Linked DNA regions of Homo sapiens. The protein of the gene in region 3 purifies or fractionates together with the protein of the main gene of each other region. This does not show direct contact. Each region holds a gene or a part of one and is shown on either strand. Other genes may lie near its edges.

Region 1 (3,500 bases), on a different chromosome or scaffold from region 3:
AATCAACATCCACCCAAAGCCCAAAGTAATTGTGCTGCCCCCCCATACCCTGCAAAGGAAGCCAGGACAGAGAATAGCATCAGCAACTCCTCAGGGTCTGTGGACATCAAATACCACAAGCCAGCCTCTCGCCTTAAGTACCAGCCTGAGACAGGGGCGGGTGAGTGGTGAATGCCATCATCTTGTTTTCCTTAACTGTGAAATATATCAATTACTGCCATTTAAGCATCCCATGCCAAGTTACTAGAACAGTCATCTATGTCTCCAGACACCCACCCCATGGCTCTTTCTCAAGAAGATTTGCTGGCTGAAAGCACAAGTGACATCAGAGAATTAAAAATGTTAAATATATATAGAGAAAGAGACCTCCAGGGCCCAGGGCCCCGCCCAGTTAAGATAAGGGGAGAGGTGAACACAGAAGCTGACACTGCAAACCCCCTGTGTTGGGGCCCCAGTGCCCCGCTTCCGGGCAGCGATCCTCACCCCAAGACAGGCTGGGAAACTCAGCTCCGAGTGTGTGGCTTACAGGATGCGGAGGCAGACCCGGAGGCGGATGCGAACCCCTGTGCCTTCCACCCTCAGTCACATGGCTGGGCTCTGAGCTGTTCAATCTCACCCTGCAGAGAACCTCCTCTGGTCCCTGGTAGGCCTGTAACACCTGGCACGCCCTAGTTCTGACCTTGGGCAACCAGAGACCCGAGCACACTGCCCAGAGTTGACACGCGGAGCCGCTCTCTCAGGGCCAATGACGAGCGATGACCGGGGCCTGCCGGGTGCTGCCTGTGAGGCTGGCACCCTCACTCCTGCCGCCACCAGACCGCCCTTTCCAGAAGGTGCCAGGTGTTCTAGGTGGCCTGGCCACGCCCCTCCCTCTCTCCAGGGCAGCAGTGTGGTAAGCCTGGGAAGGACGCTGGTCCCTATATCGGACCAGCCTTCTCTGCCCTCAGCTCTGCAGAAACAGGGCTGGATTTTCCCAATAAGAGCTTTCTGTCAGCTGGGCGCAGTGGCTCACGCCTGTAATCCCAGCACTTTAGGAGGCCAAGGCGGGTGGATCACGAGGTCAGGAGATGGAGACCATCCTGGCTAACATGGTGAAACCCCGTCTCTACTAAAAATACAAAAAAATTAGCCAGGCGTGATAGCGGGTGCCTGTGGTCCCAGCTACTTGGGAGGCTGAGGCAGGAGAATGGCGTGAACCTGGGAGGCGGAGCTTGCAGTGAGCCGAGATCGCGCCACTGCACTCCAGCCTGGACAAGAGTGGACTCCATCTCAAAAAGAAAAAAAAGAAAAGAAAAGAGCTTTCTGTCAAGCAGCAGAGGAAAGAAATCAGCAGGGGAGCTGGCAGGAGCAAGCTGAGCTTCGGCGTGGATGCTGCCCCAACTCCTGCCCTCGGGCCTGCCTGGACCCGTGCCCACCCACTCCCTGCACCCGGCCTAGGCCTCCCCCGCTTCCCCCTGCTTCCTGTGCCATGTCACCAAGCTGAAGCGAGGGCTGGACAGGAGCCACGGTCACCCCAACTGGGGCCCCACATGCTGTCTCATGAGCTGCCGGCCGTCCATTCCCCTTGGTCCAGCACTCCCACGTATGAGGCAGGCCAGCGACGCGCAGGGACAGGTCTGGCGCTGACACCATCCCTAGCCACAAAGGCTACAAACCAATCATCTGAGGGCCAGAAAAATGGGCCAAGTGTGCCATCTGCACACAAACCACTGAGAAGCCCCAGCAGAGGCCACATCCTTCTCTAAGGGAAACCCTGGCCCAGCTGTCACTGCCCCCAGCACCGGCCCTGGAAACAGAAGGAACTGGACATGGCGTGCGTGAGGAACTGAATGCCACGCGCCCTGCCCTGATCTGTGGAGCTGAGCCTCGGGGTTGACACCTTTGCTGGGGGACATCACCAAGGCAAGACCACCACGCTCTGCCCGGGCTCACCAGTCCGTTCGGGATCGTCTGCTGTCCATGGTTCAAGTACATGTAGTGGTCGTTGTAGCCCGTGTGTGTGTACACAGCCATGCTGGGGCAGATGGAGAACAGGAAGCATCTGTTGTCCCCTGAAAGTAGCCAGAGAACAAAACAAACAGGGTCGGTGTCTGAGCCGGTCCCACAGGGCCGGAAATGCCGGTAAGCTGCAGCTCAGGAAGCAACAGGGCCAAGACCCTTCTCACCCATGTCCAGGTGTCGGCAGATCAGGGTTTGGGACAAGCTGCTAGGGACCCAGGTGGATGAGCTGGGGATGCAGGGATTAGAGGGACAGCTAATAAGGAATGGGACATCTTTTAGCTCTGGCCAGGGGAGCAGAGATCAGAACTCTGCCCACTGTCTGCTGGAATCAGTTCAGGCTGGCCAAGCACATCCGAGCCAGAAAGAGCAGGCTTCCTTTAGCTTATGAGCACGGGGCAGGTGGTCACTCCGCAGAGACTGAGGCCTCCAGCACAGCCTACCTGAGCAGGCAAGTGACGCTGCGTAGTGCTGACCCCGGCCTGAAAGAACGTACCATGCAGAGAGAGAAAACCTGCAGCTGCAGAGCTGTCCCCAGGGGCACGGCCTACGAAAGGAAGTAGTTTACCCTCGCCCAAAGGCATGGGGTGGGCACACAGGCCATTAAAAGAAAGGTACCAGTCAAAACTCTGGAAACTATGGGTCCCCAGTCTCAGAGACTCCTCCACTCCATAAGCACCTCAGCACTGGGGACAGGGCCGTAGGCCAGGCCTCGTCCTCGGAGCTCCCAGCGAGGGACACTTCCCACCATGTTCTGAGGACTTGGCCGGAAGGGCTGCCCGCCTCGACACCAGCATACACAACTGTCACAACAAGCTGGAAGGCTGCAGAGAAACAAGCTCATGGGAATTTGGGGTTGGGCTATTCATCAGGTGGGAAAGAAGTCACAGGAAGCAAATTGGGGGCACCATGATGGAACGCAGATAAGAAGGGGGCACCAAGACCAGGAGGCTGGAAGAGGACGATGGCCCCGAGCAAGCCAACAGGGCTCAGTCTGTAGAGTGTGGGCTGACACCGCCCAAGGCTCCAATCTAGAAAGATCGCTGGGGGGCCTCTGCCATCAGGGTCTGGGAGGCTTCTGGGAGGCAGCTTCCGAGGTCAAGAGGGAGGCCCTGAAACAGAGCTGGCTGGGGCAAGAGTCCCCATGGAGAAGGGATCCCATGAGGACAAGGTGTGGGACAGGTACGGAACAGTGGGGCTTGAGAGCATCGGGTGGAGGAAGGAGGATAGTTAGGCTAGAAAGTTCCACTGGAACCAGCTAAGTGAAGGGCTTTACTCTGGGCTACAGACTCAGGCTTGCTTCACTGGGTTTCAGCAGCCCCAGAGGCTTGAGGGCAGGTTTAGACGCCGCCATGAACAGCTGGGTCACACCCGTCTGCACTGCCCCCGCCCCGCTCTCCCCGACTGGACTTCAGGTAAGCGGCCCTTTGCTTTGCAATCCTGAGCCCGTCTTGCTGCGGAGCAAGGTCGCAGGGCCACAGAGTTCAGGCCTCAGCTGCGAT
Region 2 (3,500 bases), on a different chromosome or scaffold from region 3:
TCAGCTGGGTGTGGTGGCATGCGCCTGGAATCCCAGCTACTCAAGAGGCTGAGGTGGGAGAATCATTTGAACCTGGAAGGCATAGGTTGCAGTGAGCCAAGATCACACCACTGCACTCTACCCTGGGCAACAGATGGAGATTCCATCTTCCACCTTCCAAAAAAAAAGGTGCAGAGTTTACTAATTTAAAACATTGATATTTCATATTTATTTAAATAAAAATGATTGAATTTATTTGAGTACAGGAAACAGTGACATTTCTGTAACAGTAAACAGTAACAGAAGTAAACAGCATCCACAAACACATAAATAATGAACATTTAAAAATCACTTACTACTGTTTCCTTGGCAGGAGGCGGCTTGATCTGTTGACTGGGAATCAGGACAAAAGTCAAAGTACCATGCATATCAGACTGTAATAGAAAGATCAGGTTATTTTTTAAATTTGCATTTATGAAAATCATTCCATGATTTTATGATCTATATTCCCTAAACTGGACTATTTCAGAACCCCTCCACAGACTTAAATGACCAGCAGCACTTTGCTCTACCAAAGCAATGAATGGGGCTGGATGAAAATAAGTGTGTGAAGATGTCTCTAGATTTTACAACAGAATCAGTAGATAGTACAGATTCCACTGTAATAACAGATGCTGAATAACTAGGACCATAAATCTAGTCTGTGCGTGTGTACAAAGTGATCATAAATTGCACTCAAAAGATGTCTAGAAATGATTTTCTGATTATACTAGCACTATCCAATAGAACTTTCTCCAATGATGGAAATGTGCTATTTCTGTATCTTAATAATGGTAGCCATTAGCTACATACTGCTTCTCAGCACTTGAAATGCAGCTAGTGCGAATAAGGAACTGAATTTTAAATTTTACTTAATTTAAACAGAAATAGCTATATGCAGCTAGTGATTATTATGCCGGACACTGCAGATCTATAGCACTGTTATTATCTAATATTATTAGGAAAACAACAATCAATTACAGATAATAAAATAAAAGAACACAAAAAATCATCAGGACACAGACTTTGTTTTGTTACTGTTTCCCAAGTGGCTAGTGCATATTAGGCACTCAATAAATATGTACTGAGTGAATTAATGAGTTATATTACTGATTCCAGAAAAATAAAATATATGTGATAGTGATACATCAGAAAGTAAAAAAATATCAGTGGTACCACCCAAAAATAAAACTGCTAACAAATACTGTGGAACAGTTACATCATGGAAAAATCAGGCTAGAAATCATCTAGTGCTCTTAACAGTTATTTTAAAAATATTTTATTCTAAAGTCTAATAAGAGCTTTCTAAAAGCTATCAATTATTCTTCTAGCTGCGTCAACTTACCAACAAGTCAAAAACCTCATTGACATCTTTCCCCCGAATTTCAATGCCATTAATCTCTAGAACTTCATCTCCTTCATGCAACAGACCACTTTTCTCTGCAGCACCCCCTTTTACTATCCGGCTAATGATGACAGAGTCCATTTCATTACGAACTGTAGCACCCTAAAAATATATATATGTATAATTTAAAAATAAAAATAATACAATTTTTGTTAAGCATTTATTTTTAAATTCTATTTTTTCCATTCAACAATACTAACCTTCAGTTATCTTAAGAAAAAATTTATTTACACAACTAGAGTAATTGTAATTAGATTTAAAAGTTGACCATTTCCCCCACACTTTCTGCTTCAGAAATACTCTATTCATTAGAATTCTGAAATTAACCAGACTTTTGAAGCACACAACAGCAGAAAAATGCACTTGTTTAAAAACAGTATGTGGGACACTTACCAACGGAATATCACGAGCCTTTTCTATACGAACTATTTTTACAGTTTCTCCTCCATACTGGCCAATACTTTCATAAACTCTCTCATCTGTAATGGGCTCTAGCTGCATTTCCTGCTCAGCAACCTTATCGTGGGCCAGTAAAAGTGCCTGTTTCAAAGAAATCCATGGCATTTTAAGTAACAGCATGATTTATTTCTGCAGAGTGATTTTTAACCTATGTACATAGTATTCTGACCATTAAATCTTTAAAAGTGTTATAATTAATTAGAGCTAATAATAAAGATGTGTTAAGTATACTAAGGGCATACTCTGGAATGGGTTATGAAAGTCTAAAATGCTTACTAAACTTCGGAAGATAACATCAATGTAAAGGTCTACACACCCTAGATAATTAAACTTACAGAAAATACAACCAAAGGGGGGAAGAATTTTTGCCTAATTTTTAAAGAAAAAGTTGTTTCAAAAATAATTTGGTTCATTTTAAATCTGAAAATATATAATCCAACAATAACTACTATGTTATAGATGGGGTTGTAAACATCAAAATAGGCTAGAGAATGTTTGACATCTCTTCCAGTACTGGAGTCTTTGATTTAAAAAAATAGAAGAATGCTGGAAAAACCACATATATAGTATTCTGTCCATTTTCTACCTGAATATGTGGAGTATTCAGCAAAGCAGTTAGTTCTTGTCCTTCCTTATGATGAACTGGCTTCAAAACAGTTTGTACCTAAGAAACAAAAATAAAGATTATTCTTCCTAGATTATAGGAAGTATCAGTAGCACCTGTATGCAGGGTCATATTTTTTAAGTACAAATTAAAATAATAAAAATACTTGTAAGAAATAAAATCACTAAAAAGAATTATTAGAGTTTTCAATCTTGTTATTATGGATAAAACAACAGTATTTCTTATTAAAAAAACACTAAATAATATTTTGGTACTTACGCCTATAGACAAAATACTTCCATCTTGAACGTTTCACCCAACATACCATAAAATTCATTAATAATAATTACATAAGAAAAGAAAAACTGTCCTAACAGTTACCTTGCTATTTTATAGTTTTTAAATCATTTATGTGACTATTTAAAATCAGAGATGACAACTTAAAGAGTTATAGTCAGGCTGGGTGCAGTGGCTCACACCTGTAATCCCAGCACTTTGAGAGGCTGAGGCAAGCGGATTGCTTAAGCCCAGGAGTTTGAGACCAGCCTGGGCAACACAGTGAGACCCTGTCTCTATTTTATAAATTTTTTTATATAATTAAAAAAAAAGACTGACAGTCTAACAAGATGAATTTATATGAGTGTAATGGAACAATCACCATAATATAATGGATTACATTAAATTTCCCACAGTCGAGAAATCTTTGTCTTCCTAGGATAAACTCCCCTTGGTTATAAATTTTTTTAGCCTGTTTCCTTATCTTTAGAATGGCACCTACTATTTATGGTGCTTCAAAGACTGATTAAGAAAATCTTAAAACAGGCCAGATACAATGGCTCACACCAGTAATCCCAGCACTTTGGGAAGCCAAAGCAGGCAGATCACTTGAGGTCAGGAGTTCGAGACCAGCCTGGCCAACATGGCAAAATACTGTCTCTACTAAAAATACAAAAATTAGCCAGGCGTGGTGGCGTGTGCCTGTAATTCCAGCTACTCAAGAGGCTGAGGCATGAG
Region 3 (3,967 bases):
ATCCTCACTACAAGTAAGTCCTAACATTTTCTAATAGTTAATATGACACTTTTACAGTCAGCCATGACACCCTTGTAGTTTATTATAACTGTTAGTTGGTAACCCGAAGTTTTAAAGAGAAATTTGATTATGGTTATCTTTTTCTTTTCGCAAGATAGTTTAATTTTTAAAATATGTGAGGGGAGAACAAATGCTTTTAAGGATTTCTACCTATGTTGTGTGCTTGTTCTGTGGACAGTAAAAATACAACCTATTCAAATCTCAGTTAAGAGATTTTACAATTGGCAAATTAGATTAAACTGTTGGCAGGAAGCTGCCAGCTTAGACTTGTATAGCATTCCTGCCATTTTATTTTTCTTAGAAGGAATATTGATGGTTTCTTGATAGTCTCTTGCAAAATTTCACACAAGTATAGTTCTCCTTTATATTAATGAATAATCTGTTGTAAAAGAAAACCACTAATTGGAGCCAGATTTATGTTTTTGGCATTGTCTCAATTGCCCTAATATTAACTTCTCTAAAGGTGCATAAAGTATTTAATATTTTGCCTAAAAGTGTAGATCTAACTCCTCCTGAAGTCTGTATCTTGCTGTCAGCCCTCACAATTTGTGTGGTCAGAAGAGCTGTTGGCATGTATGTCATCTCAGCTGCAGTGGCTCCAGGATGCTAGAATTTAAAACCGTACCTTTGAATCACTCACTATACTATTAAATCACTTCTCTTTATTCAACTCTAATCTGACAGGTTCTTGAAATGGTACAGAAATCATAATCACTGATTTTTTTCCTAAGTCATTTTTTAACCAAAAAATTACTCTTACCTTTTGAAAAAAATTACAAATGTATAATCTGTTCATGTCAAGGAAGTGCATTATTTTTCTCACTATTTCTTATATTCCCCACCTCTTGCAAACACACACACTGCAATATATATACACCATACACACATGCACACACACACCCCAAATTTATTGTCTGGATGTAGAAGCTCACTACCCAATTAACACTTTTTTTCCCTTACAAGCTGAAACTAGCAGTAATTTATGGCACCGCATTGTGCTGCTGCTTCTCCATGGGGGGAGCTGAGAGCATTTCTCTTCAGTACAGAGCAATCCCCACAGGTGTCAGCTGAGAGCCACCAAGCTAGGGTATCCCACTTCAAGTTCCTCCCAGATGAAATTGATGACTGGTTCTCTCTCTTTCAACACACACACACACACACACACACACACACACACACAGTGTGGGTGTGCGCACATACACACTGCCCACTAGCAAAAGGAAATAAAAATCTCAGTTGCTTATTTATTATGGCTGATACATTCCACACCATCAGCAATCACCAGTCATATCTTGTCTTCTCCTATATCAAACCCGAGGAAAGAGGCTCGTCAAATCATCTGAAATAGCATATTATTCAGTATACTTTCATATTTTAAGTGGACTCAGGAATCTGCTAAATTTTCAGTCATTTGCAAAATAAATCTGGAATATCATGATCAAGAGTAGTGCTTTGAACCCTTTCTCAAGCTCATGTGTTAGAAAACCTTTTTTTTTTTCTTGTGTGTGTAACTCTGTTGGAGCCAATTATTGTATTAATTAATGTTACATTGATCACATAACCTTTTTTCTCCCGTCCCTCCTGCCCTCCTCCACTAATGCACACCTTGACAATTTTAAGGGATGGTGGAAGAGAGAAAAACCGTAGAGCAATATATATGTACATATAGATATATATACATTCTTATCACAGGGAGGTTAACTGGTTTTCCCAGTTCTTGGAGGAAGCTCATTGTATGTGAGCGAGTATCTGTATTTATATGGAGAAAAGAGGATTCTCTCTAGGTGCCAGAAAGACCTGGCCAGTTCACAAATTAGAGGATGAAATAAAGGGATCTGAAAAACATCCTTACTGCAGCCAAAAGAAGAAGCGCTCTAATTCAAAAGCAGACTAACAGCATCATTAATCTTTTCTTTCATTTCTAGAATCAAATTCATCCCAAGTCACTAGGAGGATCAATACAGTACGCTCATCGGCTGCAGTTGCATATTTTAATGTTTCTGATATCACACACACATACACACCTACACCTTTCCATGCACCCTTCAATATATATATATATCTTCATAAAGAACATGAAATCTCTGAGAGAAATTTTAGAAGTGCTTATTATTTCACCCCTGGCTTTTGCAAAGTCTCTCAATACCAATGCACAGCCAAAATTCTCTCTGGCTTTCCCGCCCAGTCTCTAAGCTCCATCTCTAATACCAGTGCAGTTTCTTGGAGCTCGGGGTCTACTGCACAAATTAACGATGGGCACAGTGTGGGGCTGATGAGGTAGGGAAGGAAATATATGGAGAGATATTTTATTGCTTTGATATCTAGCCTGTCTCTTATTTTCTTTCTTTTGCTAATACATCACTGCATTCAGCCTTTAAGTTACTACCCCAGTTCCACCATCTCTTCTTGCCATCTATTTAAAAGGCTTCATGCAAAACAACCAAGATCTACACTCCTCCACCCTCCCACCACCCATCTTTCCCTGTGTATTTGTGGCAGATCCTGGCTCAGTTACAATGGGGAAAGATATCCTTCTTCAGCTTGCCTCGCCCCATCCCCTCCCCCCAACCCAAATTGAGCTTCTTTACCTGCCCGGTTATTCCCCTCAGCTCGAGCCAGAGCCTGAAGCATGCATCGGTCAAAGCGAATTTCCTGAGGTCTATGGATAAGGCGACTGCTGCTGCCTTTTCAGAGGCGTCAGGCTTGAGCGTCTATCTCCAGGAGTGCGGGAGGGGAGAACAGGCAACGGAGGGGAGCAGGAGGAGGAGGAGGAGGAGAAGGAGGAGGAGGGGGAGGAGAGGGAAAGAGCTGGGAAGGAAAAGGCGGTGGTGGAGCCTGAGAAGGCTGGGTTACGTGACGCCGGGTGCTGTCCTTCTGAAAGAGAAGGGCGGAGCTGAGCTCTCCGCAGTACCATGGAGAGCGGCGGGCCCGTCCTTTGGCTGGGGAATGGGTGGGCTCGGCCCGTGGTCGCAGCCCCTCCAGGTCTGGATGCTGCGGAGCGAGGTGCTTTTACCTTTGCATCGTCCCCTTGCAGGGGGAGCCTGATCCTGGGGGCGGGGACCTTCCGCAAGCGCTTCTAACTTGTCACCACCCTCTCTTCCCCATCGGAAAGAAAGAAAGAGAGAGAGAGAGAGAGAGAGAGAGAGAGAGAGAGAGAGAGAACGAACGAACACGAACCAGAGAACCACGTAGCCTACTGAGCATGCCCAGGCCCCTGCTAGACCCATGGAAAGCTGTATGGAGATTCCACTTCTCCGGGGTTTGGTAGTGATTGGGCGGGGATACCTGAGAGGGTGCCAGGAAAGGGTCCAGCAGTCAAAGAGAAGGGGCCAAGGAGTCGATAATTATGATGAGCTCTGGCTTTACTTGTGCACCTTGGTCTCCTGCTCGGAACCCTTGAAAAGAAGCTGCAGCTTTTCGAGGAATGCAGGGGCAAGCAAGACTCACACAGGCACTGGCATTCTTCTAGATCCGATGTCCCTTGCCCCACCCCTTACTGTGGCTCTGCCTTGGGTAATCACAACAAATCTTCATGACTTGCCTAGGCTGTGCCAAAAAGATGTAAAAGGAACCCACCAGGGTAAGATGCCAACTTGCAGACGACGATCAACTGTGTCTGACAAGGTGCTTTTTACTGCAGCCTGTCGTCATTCTCCAGCCTTCTGTGCTCTGTCTTGAACCAAGTTTTCTACCTGTTTAACTCTTCCCTCCGTCTCCTCCTCCCTTTTGCAGCTGGTAAAACCTGGTGAAAGTAAAACTGGGTGTGAGGCTCTAACCATGCAACTGGGCATGCCCAATAGGCATTGCTGGGTTTGGTGAGAAAGGGGTTAAATCTAAGGGAGCTTACAGATTAGGTGGTAGAGGAGTTCGGGGTCTGTGGCTTTAAATTATGGTTTGCACCCTATGG
Region 4 (2,892 bases), on a different chromosome or scaffold from region 3:
TTGAGCTCAGGAGTTTGAGACCAGCCTGGGCAACATGGCAAAGCCCCATCTCTACAAAAATACAAAAATTTGCCAGGTACGGTGGTGGGTACCTGTAATCCCACCTACTTGGGAGGCTAAGGTGGGAGGATCACTTGAGCCCGTGGGTCGAGGCTGCAGTGAGGCGAGATTATGCCATTACACTCCAGCCTGCATGACAGAGTGAGGCCCTGCTTTAAAAGATGGGGCTGTTCCTGGTAAACAGGGCACAAGGCTCCTGACACAGAATCCAAAGCAATGCAAAAGGCATATTCAGGCTTTCCAGTGAAAAGGATTCTCCTCTAATTCTTGTTCATTCTCCTAGTTAAATGATGGGAGTTCTGTCAACATCTGCTGCCGTATTTCTTTAGGATGTCCAGATACTTCAAGGGGCATAACCATACCTGCACAGCATACAGAAGATGCATTCTGTAAACTGATATGACCTCCTGGTGTTGTTTCTTGCATTCCTAGAAAGGGAATATTTCACATTATTAATGAGCTTAAGAGATCTTTAAAGAACAAAAACAAAAAACTATGAGAAAGCTGCAGCCAAATGCTACCCAAGTGGTCCCCTCCACTTTATGCTAGCACTGGAAGCTTCTAAAATTGTTGTGGCCTTACTGGCTTGTGTATTTCTGAATACTTGTCAATCATCTTAGGGAAAAAAGTCTTGGTATGTCAACTCTAGAAAAAACTGTATAAAAAGGAGTTATTATCACCCCACATTTGGTTTTAAAAATATATGCTCTTTGGGCGGCTGAGGTGGGTGGATCACTTGAGGTCAGGAGTTTGAGACCAGCCTGGACAACATGGTGAAACCCCGTCTCTACTAAAAATACAAAAATTAGCCAGGCGTAGTAGTCAGTACCTGTAATCCCAGCTACTCAGGAGGCTGAGGCAAGAGAATCGCTTGAACCTAGGAGGCAGAGGTTGTAGTGAGCCGAGATCACGCCACTGCACTCCAGCGTGGGTGACAGAGCAAAACTCTGTCTCAAAATATATATATATATGTGTGTGTGTATGTGTGTGTGTGTGTATGTGTGTCTATATATGTGTGTATATATGTATATATGTGTGTGTATATATGTACATATACTTATGCAAATACAGCTACATTAAATGTAAATACTGCAAGGAAATATATCAAATGTAAAAAGTGATTATCTCAGAGTTATTGAATTATGGAAAATTTTTATTTATAGGAACTTGTTAGAGTTTTCTTTATTTTTCAACTTTTCTACAATGACCAAATATGTACTAATTTAATTTTTAAAGCCTATTATTTTTAAGGGAATTATTGATTACCCACTATATGGCCAGCATTGTATAATCCTTGGGGAGCTCAATTATTTAGCTATCAGTGTACTAAGAAGGCAAAGAGGGTGGTGGCCCCAATCTCCAGTGGTTCCTCAATACAGCCGCTGATGCTTCTATTTCTCCTTGTTGAGCTATTACTCCAGTTCCTCTCAGTGGCTGTTTCAAGGGTCTTATCTCTGAAACTCTTGTTCTAAGAACCTGTCCTCCTAATTCATCATGAAAATTGAGACCATCATATATGGATTACTTCAAAAATGTACAAAAGTCCATAATACCCATTCTTCCTTCCCCCCATCAGTGTCAGAGTATGAGGTATCTTTCCTGTTATTAAGGGACATTTTAAAACCCGTCCTTTAAGTTCACATCATAAGAAGGCACATTTGGCATTTCTCTGTGTTGTTCCCTCCCCACCTTTCAGCAACCTCTACTCAATTATTTATGATTTTATCTTCTGATCTGGCTTCCTTTCTATCACTGCCTCTGTCATCATTCGCTTGGCTTTGATATCTGTGTGAATGATCCATCTAACACCTGGACCTCTCAGTTCCTCAACTTCAGCTTTAATAACATGCTCCTCTTCAGTTCAGCAACTCCTGTCATGGTTGTAGCCCTGCCTCTATCATTACCACCTCTGAAATCTCAACTGAAAGCATCCCACACCCTAACCACCACTTCCCATCTTTCCAGCAAGCTTGCTTCAGGCTTCCCCCAACCCCTACTGCGACTGGTTAGCCCCACCAGATACCTATCTACTTACTTACTTCTCTAGCAGCCAGTCTACTGCGGTCCAGATTCTACCCTCCTCCCCACTCCACTGGAATGGTTCTCACCAAGGTTCCCAAAAGCCAGCTAGTGCCATATGTCAGTCCTTGCTAAGTAACAACATATTCTTACTCAGGCCTTCAAGACTCAGCACAAGTGTAACTCCCGTAGGAACCTTTTCATGACTCAGCAAGATTGGGTAGACACATTTCCTTTGTATGCCCACGGTATGCTGGGCATCTCTTTGCTGATAACTTATATAGAGTATAAACTCCTTGAGGGCAGGGACTGAGTCTTACTCATTTTATATCATCAGCCCCATGTATAATACTGATGTAAGAGCTCAACAAACACATGTTGCGTAATTATAAGAATTACTGTATAAACCAATAGCACTTTATCTACAAGTCTGTAATACCATTTTATCAGGAGAAGAATGACCTGCAGAACACAGTAAAGAGCAGCTTCTCCTAAGTATCCACCATTTCTAGAGCTGTTTCCTCCAAAGCTAGCATTGAACTTTGTGGCCAGCCAGAGTAAGGACTGCAGAAACCTGAATTCACTACAGTTAGGTCTATTCCGAAGAAATCATCAAATCCATGTTCTGTTTGTATATGGAAGCTAGAGACAGTCCAGGACAGACTAACCCTGGACTTTAGGTAGAAAACGGAATGTACCCATGCCAACTCAAACCTTAACAGATATTGTGGTAAGCTAAATAATGGCTCTTGAAAGATGTCCACATCCTAATCCCCAGAACCTGTGAATGTTAAACTTTATATGGCAAAAGGC

Evidence for each region. Proteins that work in one complex are often made in the same cells at the same time.
Region 1: the proteins of NRXN1 (region 3) and MEAK7 purify together in Homo sapiens (affinity purification with mass spectrometry, with the first as the bait; one large-scale study listed by BioGRID). This does not show direct contact.
Region 2: the proteins of NRXN1 (region 3) and PALS1 purify together in Homo sapiens (affinity purification with mass spectrometry, with the first as the bait; one large-scale study listed by BioGRID). This does not show direct contact.
Region 4: the proteins of NRXN1 (region 3) and RAI14 purify together in Homo sapiens (affinity purification with mass spectrometry, with the first as the bait; one large-scale study listed by BioGRID). This does not show direct contact.

The regions. Positions count from the first base shown.
Region 1 is NC_000016.10:84,480,660-84,484,159, forward strand, and holds part of MEAK7 (MTOR-associated protein MEAK7), read right to left. Parts: intron 2,052-3,500; coding exon 1,933-2,051; intron 50-1,932; coding exon 1-49. UniProt on the Homo sapiens protein: Activates an alternative mTOR signaling through RPS6KB2 activation and EIF4EBP1 repression to regulate cell proliferation and migration. Recruits MTOR at the lysosome, essential for MTOR signaling at the lysosome.
Region 2 is NC_000014.9:67,300,435-67,303,934, reverse strand, and holds part of PALS1 (protein PALS1), read right to left. Parts: intron 2,547-3,500; coding exon 2,469-2,546; intron 1,964-2,468; coding exon 1,817-1,963; intron 1,526-1,816; coding exon 1,364-1,525; intron 414-1,363; coding exon 336-413; intron 1-335. UniProt on the Homo sapiens protein: Plays a role in tight junction biogenesis and in the establishment of cell polarity in epithelial cells.
Region 3 is NC_000002.12:51,029,333-51,033,299, forward strand, and holds the start of NRXN1 (neurexin-1 isoform alpha4 precursor), read right to left. Parts: upstream 2,801-3,967; 5' UTR 2,649-2,800; intron 1-2,648.
Region 4 is NC_000005.10:34,827,328-34,830,219, reverse strand, and holds part of RAI14 (ankycorbin), read right to left. Parts: intron 489-2,892; coding exon 423-488; intron 1-422. UniProt on the Homo sapiens protein: Plays a role in actin regulation at the ectoplasmic specialization, a type of cell junction specific to testis. Important for establishment of sperm polarity and normal spermatid adhesion.